Regions from separate parts of the Homo sapiens genome. Here region 1 is linked to region 2. Evidence: fine-mapped expression QTL. A gene starts in region 2. The other region holds a variant in brackets. All regions are shown on one strand. Distances are from middle to middle. Region 1 overlaps PIRAT1 (PU.1 (SPI1) induced regulator of S100A8 and S100A9 alarmin transcription 1). Region 2 holds the start of PIRAT1 (PU.1 (SPI1) induced regulator of S100A8 and S100A9 alarmin transcription 1).

The links. PIP is the estimated chance that this variant, and not a neighbour inherited with it, causes the effect.
Region 1: its variant is fine-mapped to the expression of PIRAT1 in whole blood (TOPMed, PIP above 0.99).

What each region holds. Positions count from the first base shown.
Region 1 is chr2:37,824,678-37,830,054 of GRCh38, forward strand. PIRAT1 (PU.1 (SPI1) induced regulator of S100A8 and S100A9 alarmin transcription 1) reads right to left here. Exons shown (of 4, transcript NR_110012.1): 3 at 4,256-4,361; 4 at 1,570-3,201. Among named protein-coding and RNA genes, the nearest start is that of PIRAT1, 48 kb to the right of the region's middle. The variant G/A (reference allele first, on the strand shown) is at 2,769.
Region 2 is chr2:37,872,852-37,878,228 of GRCh38, forward strand. It overlaps PIRAT1 (PU.1 (SPI1) induced regulator of S100A8 and S100A9 alarmin transcription 1), which reads right to left and starts at 3,012. Exons shown (of 4, transcript NR_110012.1): 1 at 2,892-3,012.

The DNA.
Region 1 (5,377 bases), 48 kb before region 2:
ACCAGTTTGGAAATGGCCATTTCTAATCTTCATGTTCCATATATGGCAACACCAAATCCTTTGGAATGGGATGAACACAGAAAAGGCCTGTATGTTCCACCTAAGCATTCTCCTTGCTGCAAGCTCTCTGGCCAGTTGTAGGGCATGCAGCATTGCTCTCTCCCACTTTATTATTTTAAATGCTATTCATATTAAGGAATGAGAGTAACTAATGTTTATGGGAGCTTGTTAAATGCTGGACACTGAGGCATGTTGAGGATTAAATGAGATGATGTCCAGTGCCTCATTGAGGTAAGTGTTGTCACAGTCTCACTTGTGAGGCTAGTAGACTGGATCTCAGAGGTCAGATAACTTTCCCAGGCACTGGCCTAGGAATGGGCTCAGCTGGAATTCAGACAGAGGCAGGCAGACCCCAAGGTCCCTGCTCCTCCCCACTGTGACTCCTGCAAGTGGTACAGACCCATGTTCTGGGCACAGGCATTAAATGGTCACAGGACTATGCTCAGTCTGTCTCACTTTTTATCAGAGAGTGAAGGAAAAGGTATCCAATCTATAGGGAGATGCCCTGCAGATAGCAAGGCCAGCACTTCATGTCCAGTCTTTCAGAGCTTTGTCAGACAGTCGATTTTCCCTTTCTAATGCTGTGACTGGGATGAGAAGGCAAAACAAAAAGAATTAAAAATATAGTATTTCTTTCCCTACTTGGCCCAAAGGAAAGGTTCCGTGGGAAGTTGAAAAACAGATGGTCCAGGGCAAAAATCAACAAGTTTGACATCCAGGATTAAAAACCAGATGGCACTAAACAATCTTTAGAAGCCTCTAGAGGGGCTTCAAAGAAATTGCCCAAAACTCCATGTATGTTTCCATGAAGGCAAGTAGACTTAGTCATACATGATCTTATGATCTGTGGCCAGGTTCTCCTCCACCCAAAATTGTTCCCTGGGATGGGATCAAGCTAAGCACTTTGGGAAAGGAATGGGACCTTTTAGGCCACCAAGAACAGAGAATCCTAACATCTTATGGCTTTAATCAATGCAGTTGTTTCACTGAGTTGACTGATCAGATTAGGCAGCCGCCTCTAATCTTCTCAGGCAGGTCAAGGCTCATAGAGAGCCCAGCATTTGAGGAAACATAAATGTGGTTTTTAGTACGTATGCTGTTAAAGTCCCAGCACATAAACCTCCAGAAGTCACACTTCTCCGAAACCAGTCAGATGTAGAGGCATCTGAATAATGGCTCTTGTAGGGAACCCTGTTCCTGCTTCCTGTTCTTCAGCTGCTTGGAAAACATTGCTGGAACACTGGGATCCACTGAGGGAGATTCTTCCAGAAGTGTCCTGTGTCCCAGACTGTGACTTTTCTAACCAGCATGGACACAGTTGAAATCTAAGCTCCACTGCATCTGCTGCTGCCATGATAGAAACACTGGCATAGCATGTGCTAGGTACCAGGCCCTGGTCTAAACCAGTCACCTATGCTAAAGCACTTTATCATCACAGTGACCCTGGGGGGAGGGTGGTCCTTTGAGGGGACTGATTCATGGAGGTTAAGTAAGTTGGCCAAGGTCACTCAGGTGGTAAAGAGTGTATTAGTTTCCTGTGGCTGCCATAACAGAGTACCACAAACTAGGTGGCTTAAAACAACAGAAGTTTCTCTCTCATAGTTCCATAGCCCAGATATCCAACACTAAGGCATCAGCAGGGCTGCACTCCCTCCAAAAGCCCCAGGGAAAGGTCCTTCCTTGCCTCTTCCAGCTTTTGCTGGCACCAGGCATTTTTGGCCTGCAGCAGCCTCACTCCAGTCTCTGCCTCCATCTTTACTTAGTCTCTTCCGGGTCTGCAACTTCTTCTGTCTCCTATAAGGAGACACTTGTCATTGGATATAGGACCCACCCTGATAATCCAGGATGTTCTCATCTCTGAGAGCCTCAATGTAATTACATCTGCAAAGACCCTTTTGCCTAATAAGGTCACATTCACAGGTTCCAGGGATTAGGAGATACATGTATCTTTTGGGGACCACCATTCAGTTCACTACAGCTGAGCAGCTGGGATTTGACTCAAGCAGTCCAGCTCCAGCACGTGGCCTCCGACCATCACGCCATGCTCTCTCATGTGGTTACTTTTCACAGGTGTCAGCAAAATGCCTGCTCAATGATCTGAGATTTTTTTTCACAAATCATCACAGAGCTGAAATGCTCATTTTTCTGTGCTGCTACTCTGTCCATGTTCCAGAAAGGCAGCACATTAAGTCTACACCACATCACGCATCCCCTGACAGATGGAGAGAATATCAGCAAATCAGATTGCTTTCTAAAGAAAACAGAATCCAACTTTGCAAATGTTTAAAGCTTGCATATTTTCAAAATTTCAAGCAAAAGTAGAAAACCTCATTACCTCAGATCACGGTTGACAAAACTACCATTGACAAAGAATTATCCTACATGCAATGAAAACCCAATATAAGACAGTGAGTGATTGTCCAAAACGTGGGTGTTAGGTCACTACCCAGACAACAGCAGAGTTGACGGTTCTACCCTAGCTCTCTTTTGATGAGGGAAAACATTATTTTTAAATGAAGCCTGCCACTTCAGTGTAGAAAACATAAAGATGTGGACAGTCACCATTGTCATTTAAAGGGTGAGCTGTATTTCTTCTGAAGTAAAGTGATGAGTCCAGGCAGTACACTCACTCTATCAGATATGATTTGAAAAGCTGAAAAATAAACCTCTGACAATAAGATTTTAGGACAGAAATGCTGCCAGGGCTC[G/A]AAGTACATTTCAGAAGAATAAAAAGAAAGTAAACGATGCCAAAGGCCAGACAAACAAAAGGAAAATTCCTACTTCGTTTGTTCTCATGAAATGCCACAGAAAAATAATCTGTTAGGCAGCTCTTCTGGAGTCCAAGTTCTTGCGCTGTGCTCATCTCTTCTTTCTGTTAAAGCTCGGTGCTTTGCAAGCTGTCGTTAAATTGCTTACACGGATGGACGGGGCCAAGATGGTTTTCAGTCTAAAGCCAGTGAGAGTCTCAAGGCAGATTCTGAAGGCCTTGAACCACCTGAGCCTGGCCAGATGGATTCTTCCTTTCACTGTTGTGACCATTGCTTTGGTGTCAGAACCCTATGGGAGAGCTGAGTCCATGACCAGAATCCTCATGCCTTTCACAACTCCAATTAGCCAAGAGCATGGCACGGAGCAGAGGTGCTGGTGGGAGAAAACAACACATAGGTGAAAAACCTCGGGATTAGGCATTTCAAACAAGAGGCATTCATTTTGCCCGACACCCAGAGTTGCCCCATAAACAAGCCAGAAACTCAACCAGGCGGTGACGGAACAAGGAATGGATGAGTGACAAACTGGGCTGTTGATTCTGTTGTAACTGAGGCTTGACTGTATTAACAAGCATGCAGTGATTAAACAGACCAGCACCAGAATTTTAGCAGCTACCTTGAAGCCTGCTGACTGACACTGTCCCTGGAGCCCCTGTTATAATGAGGTCCTTGTGATAACTTACTCCCTTGGATAGAGTCCAAGACAGGCACGTGCCCTGTGGAATTCCACACTGTAACCAACCATACTTCAGAGAGATTCCAGAATAATGATGGTATTGCTTATTTAGGCTGAAGGTTATCTGCTCCTCCTCCTCCAGATCCCTGCCAGCCAAGGGAAGAGCATCTCATTGGTGTCAGATGACAAGGGTCTTGTTCCCTTTACTGGAATAAGCTTCTTATGTCATACAGACTCTGGAAGTCCTGAAAAGCCATCTGTCTTGGCCTTTACTTTAGGAAAGAAAGTATCATAACCTGCCACAGCAGTGGGGACAGCTGAAGCCGGGGGTTACTATTCGCCCTTGTTACTATTCATGGAGGCTCTTAGGGAAATGACCAAAAAGCTCTTTATGGCTCTTGCAATTAATCCTGAAATTCTGGTTGTCACTTGTGGGTAGAAACATATGGTTTACAAATGGGTTGATGATTATTATTTCAAGGAAAAACTAAAACATTATAATGAGAGTTATAACATAATGGTGGGACAGTATAAATAGGGAGAGAATTTGTAGTGTTTTCTTGTTCGTTTTGTTACATGAATAGACAGCTAGGGGAAAATGGCATTCTATGGGGAACTGATGGGATTTATTTAATATTTATTTAAATAAATTTATTTATTTATTTATTTAGACACCTCTTTTTTCCCGTCTAAGTTATAAACTAATTAAGAGATGGACAAAGAATAAGGTAAAGGAAGGTCAAAATATTACCTTGGGCAGGGTGCAGTGTCTCACACCTGTAATCCCAGCACTTTGGGAGGCCAAGGCAGGAGGATCACTTGAGTTCAGGAGTTTAAAATAGCAACATAAGAAGAATCTGTCTCTCCAAAAAAGAAAAAGAAAAGAAAAAAAGGAGGTGAGGTGGCACATACCTCTAGTCCCAGCTACATGGGAGGCTAGGGTGGGAGGATCACCTAAGCCCAGGAGGTCAAGGCTGCAGTGAGCTGTGATCACACCACTACACTGCAGCCTGGGTGACAGAGTAAGACTGTTCCTCAAAAAAATAAAAATAAAAATAAAAATTACCTCAGTTCGTGAAAACAGCAAAGATGTGTGGCATGACTAGCTCCATTCCCTGGAATTAGGAAATATCACCACACTTATGATGAATCTTACAAAACTTAAGCCTTCCCACTCAGGGAGGGCCACATAGACATGAGAAAGTAGAGCAGAATGTGGTTGTTTTCCAGGGGAAGCTGGCTTCTAATGAGAAGGGAGGGAGGGAGGGCCTGGGCTTCCTGTGCAGATTCATTTCCCTTGGTTACCAGCAGGTCACTCACCCCACCTCCGTGGGCATTAGCCATGAGGCAAGAAGTAAGAGGAGTTTAGAAAAAAATCCTTGTTTCTGGAAACCAGAGAGGAGGGAGACACGGTTCACTCAATGAGTAGGAACTTCAATGGTTAAATGTGTCTTCTTGTAACAAACATCCATGTAACTATTTGAGGCCAGAATGAATTCTTCCTGGTGTTTCTTTAGGTGATTTCTCCAAGGGAGGCCTGTGGTATGCAGGGGATTTTTACCAAGACCAGCGTTCTCATGAGTCCAGAGGCTCATCTGCCCTTAGAGGATTGGAAGATTTGCATCCGCTTCCACAAGCTGCTAGCCTAATCCTCTAAGGTTCAAATCTGCCAGGGATCCATACCATGAAGGCAGTCCTCCTGAGTTTGCTTTGGAGTCTGACACTTTTCATTATGGACATCAGTGATTGACACCCTGATTGTACTTAGAATCACCCAGAGGGAGCTTTTAAAAAGTATTGGTACCCAGGCCCCTCCTCAAACTGAGAAAACTGAGGACTCTGTGGGTGAGCCTGGACATGGATGGCTTTACCA
Region 2 (5,377 bases):
GTGACCCCCTGGCAGTGCAAGACTGTCGTCTCCTCCTCCCTACCTAGCCTGGCAAGCTTTCATTCTTTCCACTTGCTCTCCTCCCAACCCTACAGACACACACACACACACACACACACACACACACACACACACACACACATTCAGACACTTCAGACACTTTCCACCCCTGCAGGCTACATATCAGAGGGAGTCACTGGGCTTGGAAAACAACAGGTTTCTGAAACTTAAGGAGGTAGAATGGGAACTTTTTCCACCATGCCTTCTGTTTACTGACCCCAGCTCTCCAGCCACTGTACTCCCTCCCCCATTTCCCTTCCCCAACCCCACCACCTCCATCAGACTCCCTGAGTCTGAAGGCACAGGATGGTTAAAAGGAGCCTTCATTCCTGCGACTCTACTCTCTTCTCCTCAAAGAAGTGGCAGGCAAGGTAGGGCATTCTCACTGTCTCAACAATATAATTTGCACATGCCCTGGCCCTGTGCCCTTCGGTAGCCATGTCTTCCCTCCCTGAAGTCCCCTGGGATTCTCCTTTGTCACTAACTGGCTTCCTTTCCTGGCATGGAGCACCTGACCCTGTCTGCTTGTCTCTTTTACCGGCAAACTATATCTCCCAAGTTGGCTGGCTTTTACCTTAGGGGTCAGGAGAGGGAGCAATCAGGCCAGAAGAGGGACAGGAGCATCAGCCACCTAAAGAAGGAATGGTAGCAACAATGAGACTGTTTAATCTTTCTAATTGCTGACACCTTCAATACAGTATCTGATATTCATTCAGTAGTTATCAAGGGTCACTTCTGTGCAGCCACTGTTCTGAACTCTCGGAATACAGAGGGAAAAAGACAAAGTGCCTGACCTCATCTAGCTTTCATTCTAATGTAGTAGCTAGGCAATAGACACATAAACACGTAAATATATACTAGAAAGCCAGCTAGTCAAGGGCATGCTTATCGTTGTTTTTTGGTTACCCAGAATCTGAACCTCCATCCTATGTTTGAGATTCCCTACCTCATGGAATCTGGTGGATAAGCAGAGCCCATGGTCCATTACATAGAATTTGAAAATGCCTGATAGTGGTTTTATCAGCCTCTCTTGTAGAAGGAGCCAAGGCCTGTGGCCAAGGCTCCACCAGCCAGACACACTGGCCCACAATTTGAGTTAGGAACCAATGACTCAAGGACAAAGAGACTGAGAAAGCCCTCATAGGAGATGGCAGCAGCTGCAGAAAGATGGGGATTCCAAGGGTGCTGGTGACAGCGGGTTCCAGCAGTGTTAGTATCTGGGACGGTAGCATTGGTGACATAACCAGTGGCAGCTGGGGCAGCAGAGATCCCACCAATTCGTGCAATGCGTGCACTCTTCTTGGCTATAAACCACTAAGCCTTCCCAAACATTCCTGGAGCTGTCAAAGTCTACACATAAATCCTTCTTCTACTTAAACCCGCCAGAGTTCCTTGTGCCCTCATCTAAGAGCTGAACACAAGTAGTAACAAGTGCTCAATCAAAAGGAAAGCCAGACGAAGGCATGGAGAGTGATGAGAGGCTACCTTAGGTAGGTGGCCAAACTCAGCCTCTCCATGGATATGGCTTTTAAGTCTCTCCAGAAAGCCCGAGAGCAAGGCCACCTGAAGACCTGAGGGAAAGAACTCCAGAGAGAGGACACAGTGCAAAGGCTGGGCAGTGACAAGCTGGGGGGCTGAGGAATACCAAGAAGGCCAGTGTAGCCTGAGCTGAGACAGAAGCTAAGTCAGAAGGACAAGCCAGGGCCACAGTTGGTGAGGCTGGTTAGATTGTCGTGTGGAGTTTGAGTGTCATGCTGCGTGTGAGGGAAGCCCCAGCTGGTTTTAAGCAAGGTGACACGGTCTGGTAGTTGAAAAGATCACCCCGGCTGCTGTCAGAAGAATAGTCTGTAGCAAGACAGGAGTGGAAGCAGAAAGATCAGAGACTCTTGCAGAGGTTCAGGAGCCAGGTAGTATGGGTCTGATCCCTCTAGGCCGAGGGCGTTTGAGTGGCGGTGGTGGGAAGAAGAAAGATGAGGAGTAGATTTTGAAGGTAGAGCTGAGAAGCCTTGCTGTGTGTTAGATGAAGGGTGTGAAGGAAAGAGACAGTTCGGGACCGAGCCGCTCTCTGAGATGGGGAAGATGAAGAGAAAGGCAAGCTGGTGGGTGGAGAAGTCAGGATCAAGAGTTTGGCTTTAGATCTAGTGAGTGGGAAACACCAATGAGGTGGAGTGGAGACAGAGTCTGCAGGGGGATGTAAGGACCTGGATGAGGTGGGGGCGAGCTGGGCGCTGGAACTAAGTGTGTGGGATTCCTCGGCACGGGGAGGAAATGTACAGCCATGAAGCTCAATATGCTCACTCAGACGAGAGTGTGGTTCGAGAAGGGGGCTCAGGACAGAGCGCTGGGGAACCAGGGATGAAGAGATCACAGCGAGGAAGAGAATCCAGCTAGGGAACTGCAGGGCGGGAGGAAGAACACAGACTACGGCGTCCTGGAAGCCAAGAAAAGAAAACAGGGGCCTTGGCAATGACCCTAGGCACTTCCAGAGGATGCTTGTATCAAGCAGGTAAGGGGACTGGGGCTCCCAGAGGATGGGCCACCCCGTTTCAGTGCATGGCCCGGCGCCTCTTTAGAAGAGGAAGCCCCTGGATTCCAGAACGTGCTGGCTCCACCCAAGGCAGACGGCAGTGAGGCCACACACTATTCCCAGCCCCTTTCTCTCTGAAAAGAGCCCTTTGTAACTTCTTTGAGAAGGAAACACCTCCGTCAGGGGAGGAACATTATTTGCTTCCTGTTAGAACAGACTTTTACTTAGGATCAAGCTCGGTGTCAGCCCCATCCCCACAGGGAGCAATAAGGGAAAGAGGAGGGAGGGGGCCGCAGACACTCACTTGTGGGGGCTGGTTTCGCAGGAACGGCTCCGGAGAGCTTGAAGAGGGGTAGGCTGCAGGCCCACAGCCGCAGTCTCTCTCAGCTAGAAACCCTCCTCCCTCCTCTGCCAGCCTGTCCTCCCCGGGCTCCGTTCGAAAGGCCTGGGAGATAGGGAGAAGGCTGGTCAGCCTGGGCGGTTAGTGGCTGGTTTAACACTTCCTTGCCTGCCAGCCCTTTCCCAGGAAGACTACAGCCAATCATTCATTCATTCAAAAGCTCTTTGCCAAGCACCTACTCTGTGCTAGGTCTGTGCCCAGCATGGGGACACAGTATTAGGCAAAAAAAAAAAAAACAAAAACCAGACATCCCCCATCTGCCCTGAACTTACAGTCTAGTGGGATAAATTAAACAAGGCACGCAAACACCTCTACAGCCACAAATGTGATAAGGCTCTAAGTGAATATCGCACATGACAGTGGCCCTGCTGAAGGCCAGGCAGAGGTTCCTTCTTGAGGAAGGACGTCTCTGAATCTCCAGAAGCCAATAGAATCTGTAGCAGCAGAAGAAAGGGTCAGGTTTCTAGAACTGCCCACTACGACTTTAGAAGCTGACGCATCTCTGTTATGCCGCGGCTGCGATGTTTTAAGTCCCCAAAGCCCAGAGCACATCGTGGAGCATGGAAGTGGTTCACTGAGAAGCTGAATCTAGTCCTGGGGCTGCTGGTGTGGAGGGTGTGTTCCGCTCTTGGGGCAGCAGCAACAGGTGCCGTGAGAGGCTCAGAGCTTTTGAAGCAGAAATGGCAATACTCTACATCTTCAGCAAATATTTGGGAGTCTTTTGTTAAAAGAAGAGCAGAATAAATATCTATGCCTCTTGTAAAACCCAAAGGAAAGCTCTCAGATAGGCTTCTTTAGGGCTATGACTATCTCTGCAGCTTCACTATACTGAGTTAAGTCTGTAGAGCATCTGTAACCCTAGGCATGTGTGTCCACAACCTCCACACGTACACAAGGACACTCCTACAGAGGACAGGCCGTGCGGACAGTTAGGGGAGGACAGTGGAGGCCGCTTCAGTTCACTTCGGTGCTTTGGATTCAAGTGTTTTTCTGTTTCATTTTCTGGGTAGCTGATTATTAAGCTAAACACTCCTTTGATGGTTGAAAATACATTAGTCCCTTTTCTTGCACGAATCTAATTCACCAAAGCCTATTAAAGTGCTTTTGGACCAATGAGGAAATTTAATGCTCAAGTATTTTATTCTGAATTCCAATTTTCCTTGTGTTATGATTTTACCTATAGGTGGTTGGGTTGATTGTATGGTAAAGATGAAAAAAAGCATATTTGGAAAGAACATGACAATTCTCAAGGTGTTTATACTACTTTACTGTATTTGATCCTTGCAACTGCCATGTGAATTAGGCAAGAAATATTTCAGTTTTACAAATGAGAAAACTTCTGTCCTGAGACATTAAGTGATATACTCAAAGGTCATATAATAATTTGTTTTGTTTTTATCTTGACTACCATACTCCTCTATACCACCTTCAGGACTCTGGAAGTCAGATATATGTGAGTTTTTTGTCAACTAAATTCATAGTTGTCTTAATATTCATCCCTTGCTAAAATTAAGGTGCAGAAATAAAATCTGTCTAATAGAGAAATATAAATCCATCTTTTGTCTGGATAATCAAATTTTACTATATTTTGTTTTAATCCTGAGAATGAAATTTTACAAATAGCTCAGGAGGTTTTCCCTAGAGTTCCAAATAAAAGTGTGTGGATCATATACACGTTCTGCTTAATCACATGACGGTTCCAAATTTTTAATTTCAATCCTTCATTACGATGAAAATTTTTGCGTTTTTTTTCCACCAGCTCTTTGTTTTGTTTTTCAATGGCTCAGGAAAGGAGAGGGGTGTGGGAGACTCTGTCTCTTTTGACAATCACCAGCGCCATCTACTGTCAAGAAATAAAATCGTGACTCATTGTTAACGCGTCAATGAACATTAGGGCTTAAAGAGGGAAAGACAATTTTATACCCCAGTACTTACTGATAAATATAAGTTCATGTACACATATTTTTATCTTATATTATTGTATTCTTAAGCAGCCTATAGGGAGAATACAATGAACTTAATATATAATTATTTATGTAATTCTTAAGAGCACTAACTTTGGAAGAGGATAAAAATGGGGTGAATTTCAGCTAAACCACTTAATAGCTACGTGATTTCTCTTACCCTCAGTCTTTTCATCTGCAAAATATGAACAATTATACTTAGAAGGTTGTTTTCTTGATTAAATGACATATGTAAAATTTACCCCAAAGCTAGCAGATCAAGGCAGCTATTGTTATACGACATTTATGGAGCACACGCTGGATATCAGCCTCTGCTGGGGGCTTGCTTCACAGCAATCCTGTGAGCTGGAGAGGCTCTGAGCTAGCAAGTACTGTGTCCAAGATTACACAACTAAATGAGAAGCATTTTTAAGTCCAATTTTCCAT